Linked DNA regions of Homo sapiens. The protein of the gene in region 2 purifies or fractionates together with the protein of the main gene of each other region. This does not show direct contact. Each region holds a gene or a part of one and is shown on either strand. Other genes may lie near its edges.

What was found. The genes of interacting proteins can lie anywhere in the genome.
Region 1: the proteins of OAS1 (region 2) and PPM1B purify together in Homo sapiens (co-immunoprecipitation; one large-scale study listed by IntAct). This does not show direct contact.

The regions. Positions count from the first base shown.
Region 1 is NC_000002.12:44,213,808-44,217,460, forward strand, and holds part of PPM1B (protein phosphatase 1B), read left to right. Parts: intron 1-3,653.
Region 2 is NC_000012.12:112,909,855-112,913,507, forward strand, and holds part of OAS1 (2'-5'-oligoadenylate synthase 1), read left to right. Parts: intron 1-1,196; coding exon 1,197-1,381; coding exon of another isoform or gene 1,382-1,404; intron 1,405-3,653.

The DNA.
Region 1 (3,653 bases), on a different chromosome or scaffold from region 2:
ATATCATTAAGAGGAGCTGTTTTTATAGGAGTTAATATTTAATGATAAATTGTAGTATATTGGGGTTGCAGATTGCTGACTATAGTTTATCAGAAGGTGGGAGGAATTCTCTTAGTTTCCTTCTTCCTCATTCATAAAGAAACTGGGTAGTTTTTATTTTAGGAAGAGCTCTCTAGTTTGGTCAGCTGGCTGTTATGTGAACTTATCCAACTTGCTTAACCCCTCAAGGCACCAGTTTCTTTATTGGAAACTAAAGATAAAAACACCAACCATAGAGTTTTTTGTTTTTTGAGACAGAGTCTCGCACTGTCACCCAGGCTGGAATGCAGTGGCGCGATCTCGGCTCACTGCAAGCTTAGCTGCCCGGGTTCACACCATTCTTCTGCCTCAGCCTCCGAAGTAGCTGGGACTACAGATGCCCGCCACCATGCCTGGCTAATTTTTTGTATTTTTAGTAGAGATGGGGTTTCACTGTATTAGCTCAATCTCGTGACCTCGTGATCTGCCCGCCTCGGCCTCCCAAAGTGCTGGGATTACAGGCGTGAGCCACTGCGCCCGACCCCATAGAGTTTTTTTTTTTCTTAAATAAATTGTTACAAAAAAAGCTTATTGATGACACTTGTTAAAGATGGTAAGGCAGATATTTTTTCGGGGGTGGGGGGGGCATGGCAGTAGATATAGGGACCACTATGATAGAATCTTGCAGTGGCAGAAAGAAATTAAACTCAACTTGGGGTCCCATAAAGATAAGTGGAATTTATAACTAAGGAGCTGAGTGCTTGAAGGGAGTGTCAGTGGATGGAAAATTATTACTAAGAGGAAGCATCAACATAAGGGGTTTCTGGCTAAACTGACTTGATAGCATGGCAGGCCAGGCTAAAATATCCAGAGTGGTCCTATATCAAGTGTGTGGGGGTTTTCAGTAAACTGACTGAGCAGGATTCTCATTCAGCCTGGTTTCTACAAGGACAGAGAGGGAGCCTAAAGTTCTCCTAGTCAGAAAGAACTCAAGAGTCTTGCTGAAGGTTTGGTCCAAGCAAAGAGTTTTTGTCAAAATAAATGAGAATTATGTTTGTTAAGCACCTATTATGGTGCCTAGCACGTAAGTCCTCAGCAAACTGTAACTTTATATGAACTCTTAACTTCTGTAATAGCCACATTTTAATTTCTTAAAGGTGTGGTCAATTCAGTTTAACATGAGTTAATAATTTAATATTAATTTTCTTCTGCATAGTTAGTAACTTTCTAAAGTATATATTATATAGGAGAGATAACAAATATGTAATATGATCTCTAGGGCCTGTAGCAAATAGTTATTATTAATCAGGAGACAAAATTGTTAGCTAGGCAGCCACTACAAATCAATTTAAGTTGGTACTTAAAATGTAACTTCACAGTAGCTTACACCTATAATTCTTGGGATGCCGAGGCAGAAGGATTGCTTGAGACTAGGAGTTCAAGACCAGCCTCGGCATCATAGAGCTACAAAAAAGTTTTAAAGATTAGCTGAGCATGGTGGTGCACACCTGTAGTTCCAGCTACTTGAAGACTGAAGCAGGAGGATCACTTGAGTCCAGGAGTTTGGTGTTACAGTGAGCTATGATGGCACCACTGCACTCCAGCCTGGGCCACAGAGTAAGAACATGTCTTTAAGAAAAAAAAAAAAGTAACTTTTTATTTGTAAAGCAGTGTTCTTCAGGAGCATTATGTTTCTTCTGGGGTTTTAAATCATGTAATATGACATTAAATTTTGTGGTAAATACATTCTGGTGTACTTGGTAAATCTGTGTGTATGCTTTTAATGATGACTGGTCAGGTGGGAAAGGAATAATATTAAAATAAACAGGGAATAGTAGTTCACCTGAATTGATGAATTATATATTTAATGATTGCTTTCTACATACAGGTTTACTCAGTGTTTATTGAACATGTGTCACTGAGGATATAGCAGAAAAAGAAATCTCATAGAATTTGTATTCTAGTAAAAACCTATTTTTTTTTAATAGAGAAATAAAATAGAGTAAGTAGAGAGCAACAAGGAATATTGGTTAGAAATGTCTCTGTGAGGAAGGATGTTTGAGCAGCCGTGCTTGGAGAGAGAATATCTGAGGGAAGAACATTCCAGGCAATGACAACAGCAAAGACTAGGAGGGAATGTTCTTAGTGAGTGCAGCTGGGTTAGAATAAGCCAGTAGAAAACTAGAGGAAAATTAAGAGGTTTGTAGGAGGCATATCATGTGAGGACTTTGGACTTTGACTTGTGGGAATTCATTGGAAGATTTTGAGTACAAGAGTGATTTGTTCTTTTTTCCAAAGGATCTCTCTTAGTTGCTGTATGGAGAAGAGATTGTATAAAAGGGACAAGAGAAGCCAAAATACCGATTAGAAATTATGCATTAATGCATGGTAGTGGTAAATTGGACTAGAGTAGAGGGGTGTAAAAATGTCTGGTGACATTTTTGGTGTCATAGCTGAGGGGGTGCCACTGGCATCTAGTGAATGGAGGCCAGGGATGCTGCTTAATATTCCACAGCACACAGGACAGCCCCCACAACAAAAAAATTGTCTGGTGTAAAATGTCGGTGTTGTTGATGTTGAGAAGCCTTATACTATAAGACACAGATTTAAGGTAGAAAACTTACAGTCCTGCTTTCATGAAGCTTGCAGTCTATGACCCAATAAACATCGTGTATGTGGGAGTATATAGCATTATGGTATACAGTACATGTCATGCATATGGGAGTGTATTGCAGTGTACCTACTCAGACTTAGGTCAGAGAAGGATTTGAGAATGTGACATATAAAATTGAAACCTCAAGGATGAAAATAGGCATTCATAGCTGGGCGTGGTGGCTCAGGCCTCTAATCCCAGCATTTTGAGAGGCTGAGGTGGGTGGATCACGAGGTCAGGAATTCAAGACCAGCCTGGCCAACATGGTGAAACCCCATCTCTACTAAAATACAAAAATTAGCTGGGTGTGGTGGCACATGCCTGTAATCCCAGCTACTTGGGAGGCTGAGGCAGGAGAATCGCTTGAACCAGGGAGTCAGAGGTTGCAGTGAGCTGAGATAGTGCCACTGCACTCCAGTGTCTCAAAAAAAAAAAAAGGGACATTCACCATACAGAGGGGTTGGATTAGAGTGAAAAGTGTTCCCAAACCAACGAAAAGAGTATGTGAAGATCTAGAAGTAGAAGTCTTTGAATGGATCCTTTGGAGATGAGGGAGGCGGGCAGAGTTGAAAGAGTAGTGGAAGTCAACGTAAGGGTCTTGTGAGGCATGGTAAACAGTTGTTTTGAAAGTAAGGCCTGGGCTGGGTGTGGTGGCTCATGCCTGTAATCCCAGCACTTTGGGAGGCCGAGGTGGGTGGATCACCTGAGGTTGGGAGTTTGAGATCAGCCTGACCAACATGGAGAAACCCCATCTCTACTAAAAATACAAAATTAGCCAGGCATGGTAGCACATGCCTGTAATCCCAGCTACTCGGGAGGCTGAGGCAGGAGAATTGCTTGAACCCAGGAGGCAGAGGTTGCAGTGAGCCAAGATCACGCCATTGCACTCCAGCCTGGGCAACAAGAGTGAAACTCCGTCTCAAAAAAAAAAAAAAAGCTGTAGAATGTAACTATTTCAGGTAAGTATCAACTTGTAAAAATG
Region 2 (3,653 bases):
GCTACTAATTAATAGTTGGTCATTAAGCAGTAATTAGTGATTAATTATCAAGTAATTAGGACTTAATTAAAGGAACTGTCACAGTTTCCTTTAGTCCTAGGGCAGCCATGAAAAAAAAAATGCTGACTCTCCAAAGACACCAGGGTATGAGAAAGTTTTGGATTCTCTCCTTTGTGCCATCTCCTGTGTTGGGGGCTGAAGTACAATGGTTGTAAAAGACAAGAGGGAGAAGGCTGGTCACAGTGGCTCACGCCTGTAATCTCAGCACTTTGGGAGGCCAAAGTGGGGGGATCACTTGAAGTCAGGAATTCAAGACCAGCCTGGCCAACATGGTGAAATCTCACATCTACTAAAAATACAAAAATTAGCTGGGCGTGGTGGTGTGTGCCTGTAATCACAGCTACTCGGGAGGCTGAGGCAGGAGAATTGCTTGAACCCAGGAGATGGAGGTTGCAATGAGCCAAGATCATGCCATTGCACTCCAGCCTGGGCAACAGAGTGAGACTCCATCTCGAAAAAAAGAAAAAAGAAAAGAATATAAGGAGTGATTAAAAAAGAAAAGAAAAGAAAACTAAGTAGGGTGAAACAATAGATAGCCATGGGGGTTAGGGAGCTTTTTTAGACAGGGTCGTGAGGGAGGGTCCCTGAGCCTGAGTGGCGAGAAGGAGTGAGCCTTGGGGAGATCTGGAGGTTCTGGGAAGAGGAATGGCAAGTGCAGAGGCCCTGAAGCAGCAATGACCATGGCACATTTGAGGAAGAGAGAAAAAGTCAGAGAAGTAGAAAGTGGGCAAAGGAAGCAAGACAGGAGGTGAGGTGGGAGAGGTTCCAGAGACCAGATCACACCAGACATCATTGGCCACCATAAGATCTTTGGGTTTTAAAATTCCAGATGTTATGGGATGCAGGAAGCAGCATGATCAGCAGCATTCTCTAGGTGCCAGGTTGAGAACAGGCTGTGGGGGAACCTGTAAAGAGGTTGCTGCCATAGTTCCGGCGAGTGACGGTGGTGGCTTGGATGGGGTGATGGCAGTGGAGAGGGCAGGAGGGAGGATCAGGAATGGACCTCAAGACTTCCCAGCCCTGGGTCTGCTGCACTTTTCAATCAAACCCCATGGCCAGGGAGATTGTCCCCTCAGAGTGACTGAAGGAAATTCAGAGAAGAGCTGACACCTAAGTTGTAGATTTTGCCCGAACAGGTCAGTTGACTGGCGGCTATAAACCTAACCCCCAAATCTATGTCAAGCTCATCGAGGAGTGCACCGACCTGCAGAAAGAGGGCGAGTTCTCCACCTGCTTCACAGAACTACAGAGAGACTTCCTGAAGCAGCGCCCCACCAAGCTCAAGAGCCTCATCCGCCTAGTCAAGCACTGGTACCAAAATGTATGGCCCTCCCACCAGGCCTGGTGGGTCCTGTCTCGACTGGGAGCAGAGGAGGGGTGGGGGGAGGAGAGAAAGAAGGGAGTGAAGGGAAGAGGAGGGGGAGTGGTGGAGGGAAATAGAGGGATGGAAAAAGGAGAGAAAGGAAAAAGAGGTGGAGAGAGGAGCCTGCAACAGAAGGGAGAATGAAAGGGAAGGAAGAGAGAAAGGAAGGGATTTTGGTGTTCTGTTCACTGCTGTATCCCCAGAACTTAAAACAGAGCCTGGTGCATAATAGGTGTAAATAACTGTTGAATAAATGAATCAATGCTACATACACACACGCACGCACACACACACAGAGAGAGAGTCAACCACACTCTTCAGAAGGTGGATAAGTTAAAACAAGAGTTTCAAACAAATATATGTTCAGATGCCCTTTCCTCCCACTTACTGGCTGGCTGGCCTTAAGTAAGCAACTTAACCTTTCTGTTCTTTCTGCTTTCTTATCTGCAACGAGTAGCATGCCATAGCTAGAGTAACACGGCATATAGTTGGTCCTGATAAATGTAGCATATTTTAGCCACCATAGGAGTACACATAATAAAAGCTAACATGTAGTATGTGCTTAGCTTATCTATGTTTTGTGGATGTGATACAATTTTCTGTTCACTTTTAAATGCCCTGCATCTTAGTCAATTTTAACAGTGATTCTGTAAGTTAGATAAGGTTAGGCATTATTATTAAATCCATTTTACACCAAGAGAAACTTGGGTCAAAAAGAGAAACTCCTGGGTCACATGGCTCATTCGGCCAATAAGTAGCAGAAGTAAAATTTGAATTTGGCTGGGCGCGGTAGCTCACACCAGTAATCCCAGCACTTTGGGAAGCCAAGGCAGGTAGATTGCTTGAGCCCAGGAGTTCAAGACTAGCCTGAGCAACATGGCAAAACCTCGTCTCTACAAAATAAACTAAAAATTTAGCCAGGTGTGATGGTGAGCACCTGTAGCCCCAGCTACTGGGTAGGCTGAGGTGGGAGGATCGCTTGAGCCTGGGAGGAGGAGGTTGCAGTAAGTCAGGATTGCACTACTGCCCTCCAGCCTGTGAGACAGAGCAAGATCTTCTCTCAAACAAACAAACAAACAAACAAACAAAAACTCGAATTTGGGTCTATTGACTTAAGAGTTTGCCTGATAATAATAGGCATTCAATGTATATTTCTTGAATGAACGAATGAATGAAAATAATCAGGAATAAACTTTCCAATTTAAAAGTAACACCTCTAGGTAAAAAAAAGACAATCATTTAGTTGCCAGACTTCTAAGTGTTTGCTGTTCTATGAATTGTAATCATGGAGCCTGAGCATTGTAGAATTTACAAAAGCAGTTCCTGACAAAAGCAGCACTGCCCCCAGGGACATATTGAAAATTAATGAGGGTGTTTTTGGTAACCATGGTGATGGGAGGACATGGGTGCTACTTATATTTAGTGGAAAGAAGACAAGAATGCTAGTTATTGTACAATGATCAAGAGAGTCCTGCACAGCCAAGAATTGTCTTTTTCTTTCTTTCTTGATGCTGTTCTCCTTTAAAACAAGACAAGATTAACAATAATTTAACTCCACTAACCACCATCATCACCACCTCCAACTTATATGCTACATTTCTTGTATATTTCAAGTCTGTTTATATTTTCAAGTGCCTCGAAGTATTATTGTTTTATAGCCAAATGTTTAGTTAATCTGCTCACAGATTTACCACTTTCTTCACTATTCATTCTGTCTTACACCTCTAACATTCCATCTGGGGTAATTTTCCTAAATGATCATGCATCCTTTGGGATTTCTTTTGATGATGGTCTATTGGTAGTAAACTCTCTCAGTTATTGTTTGTCTGAAAATGTCATGCTTTTGCCTTCATTGTTGAAGGGTGCTTTTGCTGGGTGGTCATTTCAGTATATTGAATATATCATTCCATCTTCCAGTGTCATCATTAAAAAGTCAGTTGCCAGTCTAACTGCAGCTCTTTTATAAGTAACCTGTCTTATTCTTCTGGCTGCATGTAAAAGTTTTCTCTTTGTCTTTGATTTTGTTTAGCTTCAATCTGCTGTGTCTTAATGATGGGTTCCTATTGTTTGTCCTGATTGGGATTCCGTTAAGATTCCTGAATCTGTGGGTAGATATCTTTAATCAGTTTTGAAACTTCTCAGCCATTCTTCTAAAATATTGATTCTCCTTCATTCTCTCCTCACCTTCTAGAATTCCAATTAAATGTATGTTAGACCCTGCTCTATCTTT